Linked DNA regions of Homo sapiens: region 2 is linked to region 1. Evidence: fine-mapped expression QTL. A gene starts in region 1. The other region holds a variant in brackets. All regions are shown on one strand. Distances are between the middles of the regions.

Evidence for each region. PIP is the estimated chance that this variant, and not a neighbour inherited with it, causes the effect. A credible set is the group of variants that fine-mapping cannot tell apart.
Region 2: its variant is the best candidate, but not a certain one, in a credible set for the expression of MIEF1 in whole blood (INTERVAL, PIP 0.86).

The regions. Positions count from the first base shown.
Region 1 is chr22:39,500,023-39,504,022 of GRCh38, reverse strand. It overlaps MIEF1 (mitochondrial elongation factor 1), which reads right to left and starts at 1,733. Exons shown (of 6, transcript NM_019008.6): 1 at 1,586-1,733. It overlaps LOC105373035 (a long non-coding RNA gene), which reads left to right and starts at 1,863. Exons shown (of 3, transcript XR_938263.4): 1 at 1,863-1,989; 2 at 2,431-2,759; 3 at 3,455-3,531. RefSeq lists a silencer at 1,335-1,444 and enhancers at 952-1,451, 1,545-1,594, 1,452-1,953.
Region 2 is chr22:39,542,711-39,547,222 of GRCh38, reverse strand. No RefSeq gene overlaps it. Among named protein-coding and RNA genes, the nearest start is that of RPS19BP1, 12 kb to the right of the region's middle. The variant T/C (reference allele first, on the strand shown) is at 2,519.

The DNA.
Region 1 (4,000 bases):
ATACAGGTTGTGGTTCACCAGGGCTCAAATCCTGGCCCTGCCACTTACTTGCCATATGACTTTGGGCAAAGGACTGAACCCCCGCTGAGCACCAGCTTCCTCACTTATAAAATGGAGATTAGGATATTATGGCAATAGTACCTACCACATAGGATTATTTTGAGAACTGTGCACGTAATGAACGGTAATAGAACTTCACCACAGGGGGTGATCTAGGAGGGTTGAAGACAAGCACTCAGCCATACTTGAATCCTGGCACCAGCACTTACGAGCTGCATGACCGTGGGCAAGTCTCCTAACCTCTCTGTGACTGTCTCAGTTCCTCATCTGTGAAGTGAGGATAAAAATCATATTTTGCCCATACGGTTGGCATAAGCACTAAATGAGTTTAATGTATGTGAATATGTTTAGAACAGCACTTGGCACACACGAAGCACTCTATCAACAGCAGATATTATTAGTAGCACCTAGCCAGGTTTGTAAATGCTCAATAAATAATTACATTTAAGTATAAACTGCCACTGCCTTCCTTCAGTAACAATAAACCCTTACACAAGCATATCTGTAAAGTGCTTTGTTGCCCATGACCACATTTAAATTAAGAATCTAGAAGGTGGTCAGGGTTCTTAGTAACAGTAAATGCTTATTGCATTATATTGCACTATATACAACGTGCAATGTTCGAAGCATGTCTCACATAACAACTCATTCTGTCAGCTACCCTAGGGGTCAACATTACCCCATTTTAAGTGGAGGAAACAATCTCCCAGAGGGAAGTAACTTGCCCGCGGGCCCACAGCTGTCAAGGGGAGGGCTGCACTCCTGACCCCAACTCTGCCTGCCTCTGGAATGAGTTACCCTTTGCTGGAGCCGGACCGTGTGTACAGCACTTCTGGGTGCTCCACGAACTTTCCCAGCACAGCGCTTGGCACATACAAGGGGCTCAAAATTATGCGTAACGGAGAGAATTTCACAACGTCCCTATGTGGAAGAAATGATCACCTCCGTTTCAGAAATAAAGAAATGACACCAAGTGGGGGAAGTATTTGGCTGGAAAAAAAGATTGGACTTTGGGCCCAAAGTCCGCGAGCCCTTAGCCTCCGGCCTTGCTAACTTCCTGCGCAAGCTTGAGCAAGCCACCATCCCTGCCCATTTTTCCTCAACTGTTTAAGAGATCCCTCGGCCCTAAGGACCTCCCGATGCAGAAAATCAACAGAAGTGTTTGATGCTGTAAAAGGCGACTGTCACGGCGAGGGCTGTAACTACAAGGTCGCTGGGCGACTGGGCGGCTGAGCCCCAGCCAGTCTGCACTTCACCAACCGTGGGGGCCGGGCCGGGGTGCGGAGGCCCAGAGGCCAGGGCAGGCCTGCTTCGGGGCACTGGAGGTCTCCGAGGTTGGGGCGGGGCGGGGCAGCCGAGGGGTCTCCCAGGGGAAAGTCCAGGGCGGGATGGGGCGAGACCCCCGGCTGCATGCTGGTATCCTGACTCCGGGCCGCATGCGAGGCGCCGGCAGCAGCCTGAGAGGAGGCGCTGCAACCTCCCCGCCGCCCAGCCGCCGGCGGCCCTCATTCCTTCTCTCACTCACCCGCAGGCCGTGCGCGCTACCACTCCGCAGGACTCGCCTCTGGCCGGGTACCTCTCCCCGGGTCACCCATCAACATGGCCCCTTCACTTCCGGGACACGACCTTGCGCACGGAGCTGCGAAGGGGCTGAAGGGAGCACGAGGGCGAGTGGAGGCGGAGGGACTTCCGGTCTTCTCCAAGCTCTCTCTCGGGCCCCGCCCCCTGCGCATGATTCCGCCCCCCAATCCTGAGCCCCGCCTCCGTGTGTGACCTCACCAAGGGACTGGCCTGCAGAGGCCACTCGCGCCCCGCCCCCAGAGGACTCCGGTGTCCGGGTCCGGCTGTGGGTACCGGGGTGGTCCCGATGCTGGCAGAAGTTCAGAGGGCAGGAGGTAGCCTCGCTGTCCAACAAGGCTGCCGCACCGGGTAGGCCCCTCACCTGCTGGCAACCCCTTAGCCTGTCGGGGTACCTGGCCAGCCTCCTGTACTGTATATGCTGATCTCTGGCTGGGGCCCTGGGGTACCTGAGGGAATTCTAACACTAATATTCAGAGCTCCTCAAAACCCATTTTCTCAGATCGCCTTCTTTTCATCCCTCCATGCTGTTCCTACTCCCCAGGCCCCATGGCTTCTGGCAAACTCCTACCCTTCCTTCAAAGTCTACCTCAAATGCCCCCCTTCACTGGGAAATCTCTCCCAGCCCCTTCCTCGCCTCCCTCTAACACACTCACGTGCCTTCTTTGGGCCCCACGGAAATGTCTGCACATCTTACGCCTCATAATCTGTTCAACAACAAAACGTATTTCTTGGCGCCTACCATATGCCAGGCACTGTAATTTATCCATTTGCTTCTCTGTCTCTCACTAGATTTGAGGACGGAGGCCGTGTCTCTATGGAAGCTCCCTCCCCCAACTGCCTCCCTCCATGCCTGGCTCTGCCAAGCCCAGGGCCTGGGGCTTTGGAGTCCGGGGCCACCGGGGCCACCGCTGGCTCCTAGTTCCAGTTCCACCACTTAGGGACAGCTGCCCTCTGCCAAGTTTCCTAACCTCACCCAGCCTTGGGGCTGTGGTGAGGATTAAAAGGTAATATCTACCAGTAGAGGGGTGGGCAATTGCAGAATAGTCAGGCTATCTGATAAAAGGACGAGAACCAGGAGAAGAACATTGCAGGGAAGAGCATTTCAGGCCTCCCCCCAGGTAAGCCTTTAAGCTCAGCGTGGTCTAGGAGCCACAGGGAGAAAGCCAGTGCTTTCGCAGCTGAGTGAGCAGGAGCTGGGAAAGAGGCCAGAGGGGAGGCCCTTACCAGAACTGGGAGGGAGATGGCGGGTGCAAAGGAACCACAGCAGGGTTCAGAGCCAAGAAGTGCTGGGATCTGACTTCCCTTTCAATGGGATCTGTCTGGCTTGAGAATAACGGAATGGAACCAGGGCTGAGGCAGGGAGACCAATCAAGAGTCTGTTGCAGGGCTGGGCACGGTGGCTCACGTCTGTAATCCCAGCACTTTGGGAGGCTGAGGTGGGCGGATCTACTTGAGGTCAGGAGTTCGAGACCAGCCTGACCAACATGGTGAAACCCCATCTCTACTAAAAATACAAAAATTAGCCGGGAGTGGTGGCATTGTACCTGTAATCCCAGTTACTTGGGAGGCTGAGGCAGGAGAATTGCTTGAGCCTGGGAGGCAGAGGTTGCAGTGAGCCAAGATCACGCTACTGTACTCCAGCCTGGGCGACAGAACAAGACTCGGTCTCAAAAAAAAGAAAAAGAAAAGAAAAGAAAACCAAGATGGAGAGAGGCATAGTAGTTTCTAAGACACTGAGCTAAGAAGGAAAGAAGCTTTCAGTGGAAGCCAAGTCTGTCTTACTCTGAAATGTGTGTTCTTTCCACTCTTTCAGGCTGCCCTAATTTGCTTTTTAAAGAATTTTGTGACCCAAATAAATATAATTGGTGGCATTTCCATCGGCATACCAGATGACCTCTTCATATCTCTCCTGACTTTCTTGTTCTATGGAATGTTATTTTTCGGAGGGAGGGACAGAGGGAGGTCATTTGGAGGGGTCTCCCCTTCGGATCAGCCCCTCTAGATCCACTTGCTCTTCAGGGTCTTATCTTTACTTAGACTGACAAGGCCTCTCCCTGCCCCCGATGCTTCCGTGGCAATGGAGTGTGGGCAGTGAGGTGGTATCTAGCACTTACATGTACGTACCCATGGTGCCTTTGTAGGCCAGAGACCCACGGCAGGGGGCACTGACCCAAACCTCAGGGCTCTGCCAGGTTTCACAGGGCAAGAGGCATTCCAGGATCTCTTGGATTGATATTGCAGGGTGTTTGTTTGTTTGTTTGTTTGTTTGTTTTGAGATGGAGTCTCGCTCTGTCTTTAGGCTGGAGTGCAGTGGCGCGATCTTGGCTCACTGCAGCCTCTGCCTCCCGGGTTCAAGTGA
Region 2 (4,512 bases), 43 kb before region 1:
CTCGATGAGCTAAATATACAGGCAAGGGGTTCTTCTGTTCTGGTCCAGCAGCTCCTGTGTTCTTCCTCCCACCCTCGCCTCCCCTCCCCTCTACACACACTCAGAGCCCCTGCCTCCTCTCCCTCTCCATGCCCACAGGGTGCTGCCTGTGCTCTCCTGCAGCCATTGGCACACATCCTAACCTGGCCCACAGTTCTTCCCACTAGGGAGTCAGTGCTAGGAGCTGACCATGGGGTTGGGCTCTGAGCTTAGAAATAACATGGTCCAAAGAGCCCCTTTCTGAAGCCAGGAAATCAAGTGGAAGGGGGCGATGATTGCCCAAGGTCACACAGCAGGCAAGTATAAGATGAACCACGCCAGTCTCCTGTGGCTGCCAGGCCAGACACTCCCCCAGAAGAAGGGAATGAAGGCCTGGGGTAGTGGGGCTGAGGACCCATGACAAGGGGCTGGAGAGGGGAGAGTGGGGTGTGAAGGGAGAAAAAACAAGAGCCAAGGCTTGCAGACCACAGAAAAAGTGGAAGTGTGTATGTGTGTGTATGTGTGCACATGCATGCACTCAAACTTGTTGGGGTAGGTGGAGGGGTGGTCAAGGGTCTTGGAAACAAAGGAGGGAGTGAATACCATTGGCAAATAATCTCTCGATCCCTGAGTCTAGGGATCCCCCTGCATCCTGACCCTCCAGAGAAAACTGGTGGGGAGGGTGGTCTTCGATGCTTAACCCACAGCGTTCACTTCCCAGGCACAGAGCTGCCCTCCCCTAAAGGAGAAGAAATCCACGGAGACACTCGCAGCCCCACATGTGCACACACACACAGACACAGAGACTGACACGTTCACACAGACCCACAAATCCCACAAACATCCTCACACGTACACCCAGATACTACTTGTATTAAATACACTATTACACCAAGGTACAGATTCACGCAAATACGTTCGCATTCCCTGTCGAGTACACACAGACACATGTATGTTATTATTAACTGTGGAGGGAGAGGTGGTAGGGGAAGGTGCAAGTGTGGTCAAGGGTCTTGGAAACAAAGGAGAGAGGGAATTTTATAGGAAAATTATCTCCAGATCCACAAGGAGCTCCTCCGACATCATCAGCACCCCCGATCCAGCTCCCTGCACCCCGACCTCCTGAGTCAGCGTTCAAGGCCTTTTGCTACCCAACAGCGGGTCATAAACCTACAAAACCTACAGAATAACTTCCTGAGCCAACCGCACGCCAACTGCGCGCCGGGCTGCTGTCCGTGGTGCTGAATTCCGCTTCGCCTCTCCGTGCCCTGGAAGGTGGCGATTCCCGCCCTAACCTCTCCCAGGAAGGAGTTCAGTAGGATTGAGGGAAGAGGCTGCGGCAGGAAGGAAGGGACAGGAGGAGACGAAGGACAGGGACGGTGAGAAAGGCAGCTCCTGCCAGGGGTTTTCAGGGAGAGAGAGCAGTGTTTGCTTTGACATCGCTTTCAAATAACCACAGTGACCAAGGAAAACACCACCAGCGAAGATGGCCGACAAGTCGGGGAACCACTGCAGAGGGAGACGCCCGTGTGCCCGGCTGTGCAAGGCTGGGCGAGTGTTGACACAGAAACGAATCCAGGCCGGAGGGGAGAGCCTGGGCGGGCTTGGAGTAATGTCCTCAGCTGAGCCAAACCAAAGCACTTCCAGTTTTCTCATGTTTTCGTTACCCATCTCGATGAAAAGGTTGTGAGTTTTCACACTGTCACAGAACAAACAGAGCTGTGACTTCCGTTTCCCAGGGTACGTGGCTGTTTCATGTTCTCCTGACAGCTCCATCACATTTCTGACAGTCTCTAAAATTTTGTTTTCCTCTGGGGAGGGAGAGGAGCACTAACCTTCCCTTCCCCTGGTCAGACAAAGGGGCCTCGTTGGCTGGCACACACCTGCTCCTCAGAGGTCAGTTACACTTTCCCTATCCCTCACTGACTCATGCCTCCAGGCCTCTGCACATGCTGCTCCCCCCAACCTGGAGTGCCCTCCTTTCTCCTTCGAGGCCCAGCTCCCCAGTGTCCCCCACTGGAGAGGGAGCTTCTGGAAGGCAGGAAATACCATAACTCATTGCAGCACCCCCAGCAGCTAGCACAGAGCCTGCCATACCGATTCACTTAGTTATCTGTCCTTCTATATGAGAAAAATACTTGGCTGAATATCCTAGGGTTAGGGTGGGGGTACAAATTGGTTCCTCGAACAAAAACAGTATCGCAGGTATTACAGAAGAAGAGATGTCCAAGTTTATGGATATAAACGTATTGCCTATAGCTGAGCATAGTGGCAAACGCCTGTGGTCCCAGCTACTCAGGAGGCTGAGGTGGGAAGATCACTTGAGCCTGGAAGGACGTGGGCACAATAGCTCACGCCTGTAATCTCAACACTTTGAGAGGCTATGGTGGGGAGATCATCTGAGGTCAGGAGTTCAAGACCAGCCTGGCCAACATGGCAAAACCTTATCTGTACTAAAAATATAAAAATTAGCTGGGCAGGCCGGACGCGGTGGCTCACG[T/C]CTGTAATCCCAAAACTTTGGGAGGCAGAGGCGGGTGGATCACGAGGTCAGGAGTTTGAGATCAGCCTGACCAATATGGTGAAACCCCATCTCTACTAACAATACAAAAATTAGCTGGGCGTGGTGGTGCGCACCTGTAATCCCAGCTACTCAGAAGGCTGAGGCAGGAGAATTGCTTGAACCTGGGAGGCGGAGGTTGCAGTGAGCTGAGATCGCGCCACTGCACTCCAGCCTGGGCGAGTGAGACTCCATCTCAAAAAAAAAAAAAAAAAAAAAAAAAAAAAATCTGGGCATGGTGGTGTGCGTCTGTAGTCCCAGCTACTTGGGTGGCTGAGGCTGGAGAATCGCTTGAACCCAGGAGGCAGAGGTTGCAGTGAGCCGAGATCACATCATTGCACTCCAGCCTGGACAACAGAGCGAGACTCTGTCTCAAGAAAAAAAAAAAAAGAAAAAAAGAAAAGAAAAGAAAAGAAGGCCGAGCACGGTGGCTCATGCCTATAATCCCAGCACTTTGGGAGGCCAAGGCGGGTGGATCACCGGAGGTCGGGAGTTCAAGACCAGTCTGACCAACCCCGTCTCTACTAAACATACAAAATTAGCTGAGGTGGTGGCTCATTCCTGTAATCTCAGCTACTCAGGAGGCTGAGGCAGGAGAATCCCTTAAACCTGGGAGGCGGAGGTTGCAATGAGCCGAGATTGCGCCATTGCACTCTAGCCTGGGCAACAAGAGCGAAACTCCATCTCAAAAAAAAAAAAAGGAAAGAAAAGAAAAAGAAACTTACTGCCTAAATCAACCTTAAAGACAATTGAATAGAATCTTCCCCCCCACCCTTGGTACCATTTTGCAGATGAGAAAACTAAGGCTGAGAGAGAAAAGGCCTCTTGCAAGATTGTCCAGGAAGACAGTGGTATCTGAGACTGTGGGAAGGATCTTTCTGAGCAGGAGGAGTGGGGGCCGGCTCTCTCTCTTAGGCCCCTGGGCTGGCCTGGGCCAAACACACCTCTCCGGAGAGAATCTTTGAGCCCAGCAGGAAGATGGCCCCACCTCCCCTCCTCCACCACTCCACCTGCCAAAGGATCCCAGCCATCAAATAATGAACGATTCCTAATTTACTTACAACTTTAATTCATCTGGGTCTCTGAGGAACTAGGGACTGGAGACTCAGCTGGAGTCTGAGAAACACTCAGTAATTCCCAAGAGGGAGGGAGGATTTCCTCTCCTGTTTCACAGAAGGGAGAAGGAGAGACTAGAAGCTCTCATTTTCCTGCAGAACTCTGTATACCACTGCTTCCCTGCAAGAAATCCCCCTTCAGACTTGAGCTTTGGGTCGGGGAGGCAGGGGGTAGAGAAAGTAAGGGACAGAGGAGAACGCCCCCACGTGGTACTGGAAAGCACACAGGGCTCGCGCACGCAGCCGGGGAATTGGTTGCAGATGGCCGTATGATCATAATCCTGGTGAGCGTTTCTTGAGGTCTTCTCTTGGCAGGCACTTTATCTGACTTAACTTTTGTTTTGGGGTTTTTTGTTTTTTTGTGTTTTTTGGTTTTTGTTTTTAGATGGAGTCTCGCCCTATCACCCAAGTTGGAGTTCAATGGCACGATCTTGGCTCACTGCAGGCTCTGCCTCCTGGGTTCAAGCGATTCTCGTGCCTCAGCCCCCTGAGTAGCTGGGATTACAGACGCATGCCACCATGCCTGGCTAATTTTTGTGTTTTTAATAGAGATGCGGTTTCACCATGTTGGCCGGGCTGGTCTTGAACTCCTGACCTCGTGATCTGCCCACCTCAGCTTCCCAAAGTGCCGGGATTACAGGCGTGAGCCACTGCCTGTGTGAGCCTGGCGGGATTGTTTTTTTTTTTTAAGATAGAGTCTTTCTCTGTTGCCCAGGCTGGAGTGCAGTGGCGTGATCATGGCTCACTGCAACCTCGAACTCCCAAGTTCAAGCAATCCTCCCACCTCGGCCTCTCAAAGTGATGTATTGGGTGGCTCACACC